Regions from separate parts of the Homo sapiens genome. Here region 1 is linked to region 2. A link means that fine-mapping ties the variant in region 2 to the expression of a gene that starts in the linked region. Tissue or cell type: blood mononuclear cells. Region 2 holds a variant in brackets; the other region holds the start of a gene. All regions are shown on one strand. Distances are between the middles of the regions.

Evidence for each region. PIP is the estimated chance that this variant, and not a neighbour inherited with it, causes the effect.
Region 1: it holds the start of CTPS1, and the variant in region 2 is fine-mapped to the expression of CTPS1 in blood mononuclear cells (TOPMed, PIP above 0.99).

What each region holds. Positions count from the first base shown.
Region 1 is chr1:40,976,051-40,984,227 of GRCh38, reverse strand. It overlaps CTPS1 (CTP synthase 1), which reads right to left and starts at 4,532. Exons shown (of 19, transcript NM_001905.4): 1 at 4,399-4,532; 2 at 772-950. The coding sequence starts at 937. RefSeq lists an enhancer at 3,534-3,583 and silencers at 3,784-3,923, 3,994-4,283, 4,554-4,743.
Region 2 is chr1:40,951,533-40,959,709 of GRCh38, reverse strand. No RefSeq gene overlaps it. Among named protein-coding and RNA genes, the nearest start is that of CTPS1, 24 kb to the left of the region's middle. The variant C/T (reference allele first, on the strand shown) is at 3,661.

The DNA of each region.
Region 1 (8,177 bases), 25 kb before region 2:
ACAGGAAAGGAAAAAAAGTCTCATTTTCTCCCTCAGAGAGATAACTCATCCTCTGCTCAAGAATTCTGTATTAAATATCACTCAGGTATATGGATCTTTTCCTGATGCCATTTGTTACGAGGATTTCTGCACTAGTGACATTTAATGCTTGCATATTTTCACCTCAACGCTAGAGAGTAGGAGTACGAATGCAGAATTTTAAAACTTAAGAGGTATGTTTTAACATCTCTCCCAGTTTTAAGCAATTAATCTTTGAAGTAACAGCCACAGCTGTATGTCACACCATTGACAGGTTCTCAATAACAACAAAGAAGTAAAAGGCAGTCGGGCATGGTGGCTCACACCTATAAAACCCAGCACTTTGGGATTACAGGTGGGAGGACCCAAGACCAGCCTGGACAACACAGTGGAACCCCACCTGTACAAAAAATTTAGAAATTAGCCAGGCATGGTGATTTACACCTGTAGTCCCAGCTACTCAGGAGGCTGAGGTGAGAGGATCGCTTGAGCCAAGGAGGTGGAAGCTGCAGCGAGCCATGATCACACCACTACACTCCAGCCTGAGGGACAGAGTGGGATCCTGTCTCAAAGAAAAAAAAAAAAAAAAAGAATTCTGCTTCTTCCTTTCTAGGTGAGAAAAGTATCATTCTGCTGTATTAAGGGACCTGTTAGAAGGCAGAAAATAAAAGTTATGCAAACCGTGCACATAATTCCCAAGTGCTGACATGTTCTGCCACATGCAATTATTATGAAGAAATCCACTGTGCTTACCATGCTCATAAGGAGAGAATGTTCCTGCATCAATGTTAATGTAGGGGTCAATTTTGATTGAAGTTACATGTAAACCACATGACTTGAGTATTGTGCCCACACTGCTGGCAATGATTCCTTTTCCAATTCCTGATATAACACCACCAGTAACCAGAATGTACTTCATTTTACTCTTTGACCTGGAAGAAGGAAAAATTACAGATGATATAAATGTATCTCAACAAACCAAACTCATCTGGGTTCAAACACTGGCTCTGCCAATTATTAGCTATGAACCCTCTTGAAGCCTCAGTTTCTCTGTCACAGGACTTCAGAAGGTTCTCGTCAGGTTTAAATAGGATCAAAACAAACATTTCTTGGATCACTGAATGGCTTTAGTCAAATACGTGTAGAAAAACAACTGCTACTCTAATAACACAGCTTTTGTTTAAAGCTTTGACAACTAATAACCTTCAGAGTCAACCTAATAAAACCAGCTCTAAGCTGGCTGATAGAACACTACACCCCAAATGTTTGCTGACATCACTGCCAGACACTGGGATACCAGGCAGGTGCCTCATTATTTTCCCTACATGGGAAAAAAATTCAAACTTGGATAAGTACTCCAGTTCTCCAGGAAATAAATAATGTCTTTGGCTAAACTACAACATATCATCAAGAAAACACAGCTCCTCTAGGTTACAAAAGATAGACTAAAAGGAAAGAACATCAACATTTAAAAGTGGTTGCAGCTAAACCAAAATTCCTTTAATTAAAAGTAGTTCTCTGGCTGGGCATGGTGGCTCATGCCTGTAATCCCAGCACTTTGGGAGGCAGAGCCAGGAGGATCACTTGAGGTCAGGAGTTCGAGACCAGCCTGGCCAATATGGGGAAACCGCATCTCTACTAAAAATACAAAAATTAGCCGGCTGTGATGGCGCACGCCTGTAGTCCCAGTTACTCAGGAGACTGAGGCAGGAGAATCGCTTGAACCCAGGAGACAGAGGTTGCAGTGAGCTGGGATCATGCCACTGCACTCCAGCGTGCGCGACAGAATAAGACTACCTCAAAAAAAAAGAAAAAGTAGTTCTCTTCTATAATTTAACAACAACTTGCTCCTTGTCAGAAATCTCTCCCAGGCATGCAATGAAGAGAGACTGTAAATACTGGGGGAGAGGGACATCAGATAAGAAACCAGTCTGAAGCACATGACGGGCAGAGGACTCAAAGAGAGGGGAGATGAGATTAAATCCAAAAAGCAGTGCCACGGTGGCAGGGAAAGGAGAAATAAGATATAAGGGCAGCAGAGTCAAGATGCAGGTGAAAACAGCATCGACAAGAGGTGAGGAGACCGTGACAGGCTCACCACGGAGGATTTATCACTGGTCCCCAGCTTCAGAGGTCCAGGATCGTCCATTTGGTCAGCAAACCCAAATGTGACCAAAATGAAAAACACAATTAGAAAGTAGCAGAAAATGCTTACTTTGGCATGGTCAGGACATTTTCCTCCTCAGGAACGTTCCATGTGAAGCCAAATTATGATAAAAATAAACTAAGGAACAAGAAAACTAAGGAGTTGTGCTCGAAGCATTCCCCCGCCCCACCCCCTCCCCAGAGCAAGAAAGAACACACTTGGCAGGGAAGGAAGAATGCTCAGAAGTCTTCCCCGCTCCAAAGGCTCTTTGCATCCTCTGCTGCAGCATTTCCAAAAGCATGCTCCCTGGTTTCAACAAAATGCACATGGGATTCTCAAAAAGGGTGTTATGGATATAAATCAGAGAAACGCTGATTAAACCAAGTCATTTAACGCAAGAATCCTGGGAGTGTTTAGCAAGTAAACTCGCACTGTGATCACTGCTATACAGTATGCGGTGTCTCCAAGCTTATCTGACCCTAAGTCTCTCACTTTACAGTTCCTTATTGACACATGAAAATCAGTCTTAGGTACATTTTAGATATGTTCTAACCAGACATATACCTTACTGAGACTATACCCTGGTCTCCCTAAGTTTTGGATGATCCTAGAAATTCCTCTGCCACCGAGTGAGTTACTTCTACAAAAGATTCATCTCATCCAATTACATTTGATTTGTCCCAATTTTACTCTAAGAGTTTAACATCTCTCTTTACGTTCTTTAGTTTCTCTCTTTAGATTCTTGCAGTCTCAGTGCCTGGCAATACATATGCCAGTGTACATAAAGATCAGGCGGGAGGCTCATTCATTCATCCTTATGGGCTACTGACTTACATGACAGCTACTGTGCTTGGGGACTGCAAACATTAATCAGATTTGGGCCCATATCTCAACTTTCTGGCAGTCCAGTTGGAGAGATGAAACATTAACAAATAAATGAGTAATTCAGTGACGGTGGAAGCAGACAGAAAACATGTTTAGACTATAAAGGGGGACGATGAGAGCAGACGCTTTCAGTACCATGGCCATCAGAGGAAGGTGAGACAAGTCCTGGGGGTAGTGGGCGGATCCAGGCGGCTCCTGTTTTGTAGATATGACTTGCAATGGGCCTTGAAGGACTGACTGCACGACTCAGAGCACAGGAAAGGGAACAGGGTGAACAGGCAGGTGCAGGGCAGCTACAGAGAACAGAGGTAAGGCCGTGAGGGGGAAGGCGGGGAAGCAGGGATATACAGTGGAAGATAAACTGGAAAGGTAGGCAAGGGCCAGATCATGTGCAAACTGGCATGCCCAATCTGAACTTAATCCTGAAGGTGACGGAAGGCGCAAGAAGGTTTTCCGGCACAGAAGTAACGTAAATCAAGACGCATCAGAGAAATTCAACAAAGACTGAGGGGGGAAATGCTTTTTCTTTCAATGTTATGAGATGAAGTGCCAGCCCCCATCACTAGTGTGCAGACCTCAATCATGTCACTTGAGCTGCCTGCAACGCGGGTTCTCACCTAGGGGAATGGGGGTGAGAATCTCTGCGCCGCCCGCGTCACAGGGCCGCTGAGGATTCGAAACTGTAACGAGCGTGGACGGAAGGGCGCCACGCAAACGTGGTGAGCTCTATACACCGCCAGCGCCCCGACCCCCGGCCGCCGGGAAGGGAGGAAGCCGTGAGGCCCAAAGGCCAGCCGCGGGGCCCAGGGCCGGCGAGTTCGCAGGCCCCCTCGTCCTACGGCGCGGAGCTGCCGCGCCCAGCCCCGGGCGGCTGAGCCCGCGCCGAGGCCGGAGGCCCGAGGCCCGCACTGCTTGAATGGATGGGCGACTGCCGGGCTTCCTCGCAGACGAAGAGCAAGGGCGGAGGGTGTGGGGGGGGGCGCCGCTCCACTCCCCTACGGCCTTCTCCGTCCGACGAGCCCGGCCGAGCTGATTCGGCGCGGCCCAGCGCGGCAGCGCAGGCCCCGCAGCCTCTGAAGCCGCCCCGCGCCCCGCTTGGCCCCTCTCCCCAGCGCCGCCCGGCCACGAGGCCCGCGCGCGGGAGCCGGCAGCTCGCCGGCCGGGGCGCCCGCCCCACTCCCGTTAGGCACACAGCCCATTGGGCAGGACGCCGAGTCACCTCGCCCCTGATTGGTAGGAGCGACGTCCGTCACCGCGGCGGCGGGGCTATTCGGCGCCGGGCTCAGCTCGCGCCGCTGACTCCTGCGCGGGAGAACAGATCCCCCCCGGGATCCCTGGAGTCAGCCTACCTGCGGCCGGCTTCAGATCCTCCCGTCAGCGACAGAGCTGGGCCGGCGACGCGCGCGGAGCCCCGGACAGCCAGTGAACAACCCCGACCGCATGCGCCCGGCAGTCTTTCACGGAGGCGGGCTCTAGGCTGTGCGCACGCAGAGGTTGGAGGGCGGGCCGGGCCTGGAGGGCGCGGGGCGGGGCGGGGCCTGGAGTGCGCAGGCGCGGGACAGGACCGCTGGGCCGCCTCCGCTGAACTGTGCCGCCGTAGGTTCGAGGCCGGGCGGGTGGTGGCGTGTCTGCCCCTCTGCTTCCGTCCCAGCCTGTGGCCCAAGCTTACTCTCTTGAAGGGGAGGAGGCTGTTTGGGAACTCACGCCTGGCCTATTCGTCACCTGGCCTCGCGTCCTCCCACAGCGGTCTCCTGGAGTTCTGGGCGTCGCCTTCCATCCGATGGTCTTTCACTGTGGGCTCCTGGCGGTGATGCGCCAGCGCATCTCTGCCTCCGGGCGAGGGACGGCGGCAGCGCCACCCTGGCCTCCAAGACGGAAGTGCGGAGGGTCGCGCGGCGTTGGCTCCTCGTCGGCCTCCCTCCTCCCCACACCTGCCCCGAAGGCGGCTGCTTTGGATGGACTAGGATCCCGAAAAGTACGGTTTCATCTAGCTATCGCTCCCTGAGCACCGACTGTGCCACGCACTGTGCTGGGCACCGAGGGACCCTCTCCTCGGACTAACGATGTAGGGAGGCACACTGAGCAGCTCATTACACTTTATGGTTGTTATGGGTGCTTGCTGCAGAGATGCTGGTGCCGGGGCAGTGAGTGCCCAGCGCGGGGACTGACCCAAGTCCGGTGGTGATTGGGAATTCAGGCGGGAAGCCCGCCCTGAAAAAGTAACTTTGAAGCAGAGACCTAAGTAGACGGCAAAGATGGGAAAGGGAGAGGCGGGGATAAGAAAGTGAGACATGCTTGAGCCCAACAGTTCGAGACCAACTTGGGTAACATAGCGAGACCCCGTTTCTTATAAAAATAATAATAGTAGGCCGGGCGCAGTGGCTCACACCTGTAATCCCAACATTTTGGGAGGCCGAGGCAGGCGGATCACAAGGTCAGGAGTTCAAGACCAGCCTCGCCAATATGGTGAAACCCCGTCTCTACTAAAAATACAAAAATTAGCTGGGCGTGGTGGTGGGTGCCTGTAGTCCCAGCTACTCAGGAGGCTGAGGCAGGAGAATAGCTTGAACCTGGGAGGTGGAGGTTGCAGTGAGCCAAGATTGCACCACTGCATTCCAGCCTGGGCGACAGAGCGAGACTCCTTCTCAAAGAATAAATAAATAAAATAAAAATAGTAATAATAATTTTTTTTTAAAAGTGAGGCAGAAGGAAAAGCCTGTGTACAAGCCCAAAGAGGCCGGCACAGCTGAATTGGAAGGCCAGTCTAGCCAAGTCCACAAGGGCCACAGGAAGCGAGATTAACATGAGATTAGGTTGAAGAGTTGGGTAGGGCCATACGGTGAAGAGCATTATAGACCAAGTAAAGGCTTCTCTTTCTCCTAGGGATAGTGGAAAGCTGTAGAAACTTTTGAGAGGCTTTTGACCTTCCTTTGAATAGTGAATATATGTACATGGTTATAATTTTTCCCCAAACACTACACAAGGGTATCCATGAAAAGTAAATCTCTTATTTCTGTACCCCAGTGTTCCTGTTTTGTTCTCTAGAAGCAGTCTGCCACAAGTTCTTAACTATCTTCACTGAAGGAGTTTTAAAAAAAAAGATGTGATGGGATCAGATTTGTGTTTTAGGAAAATCATTGAAGCAGATGGATTCCCAGAAACCAGGTCAGGAGGCTCCTGCAGTGGCCTCTTTTAGAGGCTTCTGGCTCCTTCCAGATCTGGATCACCAGTGCTTCAACCCTGACAACCTGCCCATGCTGCATTCAGCTCCAAATCTAAAAAATGTTTGGAATGCCAGGCATAGTGGCTCACACTTGTGATCCTGACACTTTGGGAGGCTGACACAGGGTGGGAGGATTTCTTGAGTCCAGGAGTTCAAGACCAGCCTAGGCAATATAGTGAGACCCCATCTCTACAAAAAATACAAAAATTAGCTGAGCATGGTGGCACGCATCTGTAGTCCTGGCTACTCCAGAGCCTGAGGCTGGAGGAATGCTTGAACCCAGGAATTCAAGGCCAATGGGAGCTAGGATCCCACCACTGCACTCCAGCCTGGGCAGAGTGAGACTCTATCTCAAAAAAAAAAAAAAAAAGTTTGGGTTGTCTTTGAAGGTACTCTACAGCCACATCTTCTTTCAAGAAGCATTTGATGTTTATCAAAGTGCCTGGAACATAACAGATGCTGAGAACATACTTGCTGAGGTAATGAAGATGCTATGGGAGATGGAAAAATGAGCCATTCACCCAACCACTCCTCTGAATGACCACTTGACATTGTCTTCTTCCTCAAAGCTCTTCCATCTCCTCCCCCATATTCTCCTCAGCTGGTGGTCTTGCTTCCCATTTCACGAGAAAATAGAAGCCATCAGTAGATTTTTCATATCCACCAACCACTTTTATCTGCGCACAAGCTCTGCGTTGTCTCCTGTTACTGTGGACAAACTGCCCACACTCCCAGAGGTCAACCTCCTCTTTGCTCCAAGTGCCATATCCATTTGTCAACTCAAAGAATGTCTAGTATGCAAGTGCCATATCCTTTCATCAACTCAAGAATGTCTAGTAGAATGTCCCTTCCTGCGTCATCAGTCTTTCCCTGTCTAGTAGATCTTTTCCACTACCGTGATGCAAACATGCTGCAATTTGTTCCATCTTAAAACCCCTCTCCTGACTCTATGCCATTCTCTAGCTCCCCCTCCATTTCTGTTTCACTTTTCAGCACAACTCCTAAAAAATGTTGTTTGTACTTTGCTGTCTCAATTTCTTCCCTCTCTTGAACTCATTCCAATCTGGATATTTTGCTCATATAATTTCACTGAAACTGATCTCGTCAAAAATTAACCTCCATGTTCTCAGACCTCTTCTTTGTACATCAGCCTAGACTCCAATCTCTAATGTCCGTAAGTCCCAAATAAAGACAACAGTGGGCTGGGCGCAGTGGCTCATGCCTGTAATCCCAGCACTTCGGGAGCCTGAGATGGGTGGATCACAAGGTCAGGAGTTCGAGACCAGTTTGCAAATATGGTGAAACCCCGTCTCTACTAAAAATACAAAACTTAGCCAGACGTGGTGGCAGGCGCCTGTAGTCCCAGCTACTCAGGAGGCTGAGGCAGGAGAATCACTTGAACCTGGGAGGCGGAGGTTGCAGTGAGCCAAGATTGCACCACTGCACTTCAGCCTGGGCGACGAGCGAGACTCCGTCTCAAAAAAAAAAAAAAATAGACAACAGTGTGGCTGTATGTGCATGGCATGAATGCATATGTGTGTGTGCACGTGCGCATGTGTATGTATTTACATATTTGGGCTGCTTCTCTCCCCCACCATAGGCCCAGTCTCCTTTTGGGCTCCTAGGTGCAGCTATACAGCCCCAGAGCTGCCCCCAAACTGACCACTTCCCTAAGAGCATTTGTCACAGCTGATCATTTCCTCCTTAAAAGGTGGGTGTCCTTTACTTGGCTTCTAGGAAACCACTTGCTGTTCATTTTTTCCTATTTCACAGGTTTCTCCTTCTAGATCTCCCTACCTAGATCCTCTTCCTTTTCCTCTATCCTGAACTATAAACATTGCCCCAAGCCTCAGTTCTAGGATCCCTTCTCTCTAAAGTCATTATCTAGTCATTAAAACCATCTGG
Region 2 (8,177 bases):
TGAGGTCAGGAGTTTGAGACCAGCCTGGCCAACATGGTGAAAACCCGTGTCACGCGCGTCTGTGTGAAGACAGTCCACCAACAGGCTTTGTGTGAGCAACAGGGCTGTTTATTTCACCTGGGTGCAGGCAGACTGAGTCTGAAAAAAGAGTCAGCAAAGAGTGGTGGGATTATCATTAGTTCTTATAAGTTTGGGATAGGCAGTGGAGTTAGGAGCAATTTTTTGTGGTCAGGGGGTGGATCTCACAAAGTATATTCTCAAGGGCGGGGAGAATATTACAAAGTACCTTCTTAAGGGCGGAGGAATATCACAAAGTGCATTAGGAGGATGTGTTGTCATAAAGTCAATCGATCAGTTAGGGTGGGGCAGGAACAGATCACAATGGTGGAATGTCATCTTTTGTGGTTCCTCAGTTGCTTCAGGCCATCTGGATGTATACGTGCAGGTCACAGGGGATATGATGGCTTAGCTTGGGCTCAGAGGCCTGACACCCGGTATCTACTAAAATACAAAAATTAGTCAGGGTGGTGGCGCGCGCCTGCAATCCAAGCTACTCAGGAGGCTGAGGCAGGAGAACTGCTTGAGCCTGGGAGGTGGAGGTTGCAGTGAGCTGAGATGACACCACTGCACTCCAGCCTGGGCGACAGAGCAAGACTCCGTCTCAAAAAGAAAAAAAATGTATTGCTTGAATCTCAGGATTTTTTGGAACGATCTTGTGAAACCTTGATACCTTGTTGTGGTAGCCACCTGCTGCAAACACAGACTCATCCATTGTGGACACAGATCTTAGTCTATTCAAAATGCTCATTTAGGCCAGGCGCAGCAGCTCACACCTGCAATCCCAACACTTTGTGAGGCCGAGGCAGGAGGATTGCTTGAGGCCAGGAGTTTGAAACCAGCCTAGGCAACATAGCAAGACCACATCTCTATGTTATAGATTTTTTTTTTTTTTTGGCTAAAAAAAAAAGTATCAGATTCAAATAGAGACAATTTCAATCCTTCCGCAAGGTGACTTAACTTCTTCACTCATAACCACTAATCTGGCTTTTATCACTGTGGGTTGGATTTGCCTGTTCTAGGACTTTGCACCAATGGAATCATATAGTACATACTCTTTTTTTTTTGGCTTTTTTCTCTCAGTATCATGTTGGAGAAATCCATCTTTGTTGTTGCTTATGGCTAAAGTTTATTTCTTTTTATTGTTAAATAGTATTCCATTGTATGGATATACCACAATTTCTTTATTCATTCACCTGTTGAACATTTGGGCTGTTTCTAGTTTGGGGCTGTAATGAATAAAGCTGCTACACACATGCTTGCACATGTCTTTTTGTGGGCATATGCACCTGTTGCTATTGAATGAATAGTTAGAACTGGAAACATTGGGTCAGAGTAGGTATATGTTAACTTTAGAAACCTTTTTTTTTTTTTGAAACAGGGTCTCATTCCCATTGCCCAGGCTGGAGTGCAGTGGTGCAATCACAGCTCACTGCAGCCCCCACTTTCCAGGCTGAAATGATCTTCCCGCCTCAGCCTCCTGAGGAGCTGGGACTACAGGTGTGCACCACCACACCTGGCTAATTTTTGTATTTTTTGGTGGAGACAGGGTTTCATCATGTTGCCCAGGCTAGTCTCCAGCTCCTAGGCTCAAGTGATCTGCCCACCTCGGCCTCCCAAAGTGCTGGGATTACAGGCGTGAGCCCCCACACCCAGACCATTTTTTCTTTTCTTTTTTTTTTTTTTTTGAGACGGAGTCTCGCTCTTTTGCCCAGGCTGGACTGCAGTGGCGCTATCTTGGCTCACTGCAAGCTCCGCCTCCCGGGTTCACGCCATTCTCCTGCCTCAACCTCCCGAGTAGCTGGGACTACAGGCGCCCGCTACCACGCCCGGCTAATTTTTTTTTGTATTTTTAGTAGAGACGGGGTTTCACCGTATTAGCCAGGATGGTCTCGACCTCCTGACCTCGTGATCCACCCGCCTCGGCCTCCCAAAGTGCTGGGATTACAGGCGTGAGCCACCGCGCCCGGCCCCATTTTTTCATTTTTAAAAGCAAACAATAACTCATCCTGAAATTCCATCAAGAATCAAACTGTAGGCGTCCAGGCGCGGTGGTTCACACCTGTAATCCCAGCACTTTGAGAGGCCGAGGCAGGCAGATCACTTGAGGTCAGAAGTTCGAGACCAGCCTGGTCAACATGGCCAAACTCTGACTCTACTAAAAATACAAAAATTAGCTGGGCATTGTGGTGCATGCCTGTAATTCCAGCTACTTGAGAGGCTGTGGCAGGAGAATCACTTGAACCCGGGAGGTGGAAGCTGCAGTGAGCTGAGATCATGCCACTGCACTCCAGCCTGGGTGACAGAGCCAGACTCCATCTCAAAAAAAATAAAAAAATAAAAAACAAACTGTATTCATTGTTAACATTAAAAATGAACAGACACTCCCCCAATCAAGAAACAGCAATTGAGAAAATTAACAACATAACTCATTTTCTTTTCTTTCTTTCTTTTTTTTTTTTTGAGACAGAGTCTTGCTCTGTTGCCCAGGCTGGAGTGCAGTGGTGTGATCTTGGCTCACTGCAACCTCCACCTCCTGGGTTCAAGCAATTTTCCTGCCTCAGCCTCCTAAGTAGCTGGGACTACATGTGTGTGCTACCATGCCCTGCTAATATTTGTATTTTTAGTAGAGATGTGGTTTCACCGTGTTGGGCAGGCTGGTCTCAAACACCTGACCTCGTGATTTGCCTGCCTCGGCCTCCCAAAGTGCTGGGATTACAGGCGTGCACCACCATGCCCTGCCCAAAATAACTCATTTTCTATAGGGAAACACATAACATTAAATAATAATATCCATACTTTTATGTTAGAAAAATAAGAGAAAATTATTAAGTTAAAGAAAAGCCAATATTTTATATGTACTTGCAAAATAAAGAAGAATTTATCAGTTGCAGCTGATAAACAGATAAACAAATCATGACTAGGATCATAGTCAGACTATTCTGTGGAGTGTGGGACAATGTGGCCATGACAAAGTCTTTCTGGCGGCAAGTGCTTTGAATAAAATCTTAACCACCAAAATAATTATTACCTAATTCAGGAAGTTCATAGAGGAAGCTATCTAACAGTGTTCAAATATGTTTTGGCTCTTGTCAAATTTTGAGTAGTTGAATAGGTCAACATGCTTGTGGCTCATTTATGGCATGCCAGTTAGAAAGCTCAGTCCTAACTAATAGAAATAGGGTTTCCAAGACAAAATATGTTATGTGGTCAAATAATTTTGGAGAATTCCATGCTAAAGTTAAAATGCACATTGCATGCTGCAGGAATTCTCAGAACCCTTAAGATGCCAGTGCCCGCTGTGATTTTTTTTTTTTTTTTTTTTTGGCCTTCAAATGGAAGTGGGCAAGGCACAGAAACATGTAGTTTCACGTAAACACAAATGCACAAAAAACATATAAAAATACTCAACCTCACTCATAACTCATATTCACAATAAAACAAGATAGGCCGGGTGTGGTGGCTTATGCCTGTAATCCCAGCACTTTGGGAGGCCGAGGCGGGTGGTGACACCTGAGGTCAGGAGTTTGAGACCAGCCTGACCAACATGGTGAAACCCCGTCTCTACTGAAAATACAACAATTAGCCGGGCGTGGTGGCGCG[C/T]GCCTGTAATCCCAGCTATTTGAGAGGCTGAGGCAGGAGAATGGCTTGAACCCGGGAGGCGGAGGTTGCAGTGAGCCGAGATCGCGCCATTGCACTCCAGCCGGGGCAACAGAGTGAGACGCCGTCTCAAAACAACAAAAACCGAAAGAAAACAAGATAGGATTTGTCACGTGGAAGATTGGCAAACTGGAAAAAGCTTTATAACGTCCAGCGCATTTGAGTGGGAACAAGTGCTCTCACAGAATGTAGGAGGCTGTGTAGATCTATAACTCTTTGGAGGAAGTATTGGTTAGGGATGATGCCCACTGGCATGTAACAGAAAGCCAGACTTCATCGAATAGGGATTTGTTAACTTTCAAAAAAAGATATTAAGTCTAGAGACAGGCGTCCCAGGCTAGTGCAGCCTCTCTGCAACATCACCAGGGTCTCAGGCCCCTCCACCATGCTTAGTACAAAGCTTTTACTCTCACATTTGCCTCACTGTGACCTCATGGTTACAAGATGACTGCTTTACCCCCAGCCTCGGGTTCACATTCCAGGCAAAAAGAAGGGAGTGGCAAGGAAGAAAATGTGGTGCCTCTATCAGGAAATGAATGCTTTCTTAGGTGCCTCCAGCTGACTTTTATCGACATTTGAGTATGTGGAACTGGCCGCCCCTAGATGCAAGGAGAGCTGTGGATTTTTTAGCTCAGCACATTGCCTATTTGAGTGAAATCAGATATTGATTTACCTGATCTGGCCTCAGCTGACTATCTCTTCTCTTACGATTCTACTCTGACTTCTGTTCTTCTACCTCACTGACTTTCACAGGTACTGTTAGCATTTTACCCAGATCCTTTTAAGATCCCCTTTTCCTTCATGTTGTGTGTGCCCCCAACTTTGCTAAGCTTTTTCTCTTAACATTTAGTACTTAGTACCCAACACCTAGTACCTAGTACCTATGGCTCTTTGGATAGGGCGCTACTGGAGCCCACTTTGCCCAGAGGAAGTGCCTGAGAATTTACTTGAAAAAGCTCCCTGGGATGACCCTAGCCAGATGTTAATGGGAGGAGAGTTTGAAAGTCTCAGCAACCTTGCCTTAGGTTGGAACAAACACTGAGGTGTAACTTATATGCCAGAGCTCCCCTTCCTACCCGACTCTACCTTACCCCACCCCGCCCCACCCCCGTGGGATCAGGGTGAGACTACCTTCCTCCGGATTTCGCATGAAATCACACGCTTGCTTGGCTTCCTCCTCTTCCCTGCCCTGCTTCCCCTACACCCTTGCTGGTTATTCCCCACCCTACCCCTAAGGGAGCACTAATCAATCACTTATACAGGAATCCTCTCAGAGTCTGCTTCCAGATCGCCTGACCTAAAACACCAGCCAACTTGCAGTTTCTAGAGCATGCTAAGCACGTTCCTATCACAGGGACTTTGCACGCTGCAGGAATACCTCCCCCCAGACACATGCACGGTTCACATCTGCACTTTGTTTGTGTCTTTGCTCAAATGCCACCTTATCAGTGAGTATTTTCTTTTTTCCTTTTTTTTTTTAGACGAGTCTCGATTTGTCGCCCAGGCTAGATTGCAGTGACCCTATCTTGGTTCACTGCAACCTCCACCTCCGGGATTCATGTGATTCTCCTGCCTCAGCCTCCTGAGTAGCTGGGATTACAGGTGTGTGCCACCATGCCCAGCTTATTTGTGTATTTTTAGTAGAGAAAGGGTTTCACCATGTTGCCCAGGCTGGTCTCGAACTCTTGACCTCATGATCCACCCGCGTCGGCCTCCCAGAGTGCTGGGATAACAGGTGTGAGCCACTGCGCCCGGCCATCAGTGAGTATTTTCTTAACCACACTGCCTGAAATAGAACCACTCCATCAACTTCTATCCTTTACCCTGCTTAATTTCTCTATGCAATTTAGCACAGCTTGGCTTAACAGTATTTAATACACAGTATTTTGTTTATTGTCATTCTCTCCTACCATAATATAAGCTCAGAGGCCAGGAACTTCGTCTTGTTTTATTCTCCTCTGTATCCCCTGCACTGGAATTGATTAATGCCTGCCAGAAGAAAGGCCTTGTCCGGGTGTGGTGGCTCATGCGTATAATCCCAGCACTTTGGGAGGCCGAGGTAGACGGATCACCTGAGGTCAGGAGTTCGAGACCAGCCTGACCAACATAGAGAAACCCCGTCTCTATTAAAAATACAAAATTAGCCAGGCATGGTGGCACATGCCTGTAATCCCAGCTACTCGGGAGGCTGAGGCAGGAGAATCGCTTGAACCCTGGAGGCAGAGGTTGCAGTGAGCTGAGATCATGCAATTGCACTCCAGCCTGGGCTTGAAACTCCATCAAAAAAAAAAAAAAAAAGAAGAGGCTGGGCGCGGTGGCTCACGCCTGTAATCCCAGCACTTTGGGAGGCCGAGGCAGGTGGATCACGAGGTCAGGAGATCGAGACCATCCTGGCTAACACGGTGAAACCCCGTCTCTACTAAAAATACAAAAAAAAAAAAAAAATTAGCCGGGCGTGGTGGTGGGTGCCTGTAGTCCCAGCTGCTGGGGAGGCTGAGGCAGGAGAATGGCATGAACCCAGGAGGCGGAGCTTGCAGTGAGCCGAGATAGCGCCATTGCACTCCAGCCTGGGCGACAGAGCGAGACTCCGTCTCAAAAAAAAAAAAGAAGAAGAAGAAGAAAGGCCTCAAGTATATTTGCTGGTTGAATAAATGATTGAATATCTAAGGATCTATGCAGACTTAGGTAGTAGACAGTGGGTTTTAGCTTTGAAGAGGGAAAACAGCTTTGTAGATTCCAGCATTTATTGATACACCAAAGCTGAGTCAGGAGCCCGAAGGAGCTCATGGTCTCAAGGAGGACCCAGACCCCACTCCGCAGTGGCCTGTGCACTAGGCTATACAGACACAATGGAAGAAACAATCGCTTCTGCCTGGGAGAATCCAGGAAGGCTTCACAGAAGAGGCCACATTTGACATTAAAAAGGATCAGTTTCTCTGGAGGAGAAGGTGGGGTTGCAGTCCTGTTAGGAATAGCTTGTAAGAAGGCATAAAGTCCATGACCTGCCTGGTGTGGACAAATTAAAGAGTGCCTGAGGAGAGCCACAGGATACTGAAGGACAGAAAGCAACAGAGTCACCAGAGGACAGCCAAGGACCTTGAATGCTGAGGTTTGTCCAGAAGGCAGTGGAGAGCCAAGTGCGGGGCTTAAGCTGGGAGAAGGGCAAAGGCGAGTAGGGTCAGAGCTGGATTTTAGCAAGTTACTCCTGGTGGTGACATGGACGAGGCTGAGAGGGGAAAACCAGGGGCTGGGAGGTCGGTTGGGGTCTGCCTTGATGTCACCTAATTTCAGCTCCAGGTGCAGAGCTGAGATGTTGGCACCAGAGGGCGCTCTGACCCAGAGCACGGGCCTCCTGCCATTCCCGTTCTGCTCCCGCTGGGCACTCACCTGGCGCTCTCGGAGACAGTTCGCACCTCCAGCCGGGGCCCGACCTGTGTGCTCAGCACACAGGCCTTGGGAAATCTTCTACATTACGTCTTGTTATTTGACTTTGTCTTTCCATGTAATGGCTGAGACTGTGAGGTGCTGCTGGAGGTGCAGTGGGGGAACAAATAGGCAAGATCCCTGCTGTCCTAGACCATGTGGTCTAAGCCAGCGGTTCTCAAAGTGTGTTCCCCGGGTCAGGAGGCCTGGCATCTCCTGTGAATGAGCAGACGCACAGATTCTCGGGACCCACTGCAGACCTGCTGAATCAGACACTCTGGGGCCCGTGGCCAGCAATCTCTGTTCTAACAAGCCCCTCTGGTGATTCTGATGGTGTCAAGGGTGAGAGTTGCTGGTCTAAGAAAACACTGCACACTATAGCAAGTTCCTTCAAAGGACTGATCCAGCAAGCTGCGGAAAGGCACTGACTCAAGGGAGCCAAGGGCCAAGCATAGAAGGCTTCCTGGAGGCAGTGTCTAGGAGTCAACTAGATAAAAAAGGGAGAGAAAGTCATTCCAAAAAGACAGAACAGGCTGGGTGCAGTGGCTCACACCTGTAATCCCAGCACTTTGGAAGGCCAAGGTGGGAGGATGGCTTGAACCCAGAAGTTTGAGACCAGACTGGGCAACATGGCAAGTCCCTGACTCTTAAAAAACAAATTTTTTTTTTAATTAGCCTGGCATGGTGGCTGGCGCCTGTGGTCCCAGCTACTCTGGAGGCTAAGTTGGGAGGATTGCTTGAGCTCAGGAAGTTGAGGCTACAGTGAATCATATTCTCGCCACTGCACTCCAACCTGGGCTAACAGAGTGAGATCCTGTCTCAATCAGTTAATCAGTCAGTTCAAAAAGAGAGAACTGTGCCAAGACCCAGAAGTAGGAGAGCTTAGTCTCTTATTGAACTCCAGCTCGAAGGGACCTGACACAAGGGCTCAGCCTTTGTCCCACGAAGTTCGCTCTTGTGACTTCTAAGTATGGTCTCATGTTTTCTTCTCTTTAAATTTTTTTTTTATTGTTTTTAGTTGACCTTAAATACTCTCC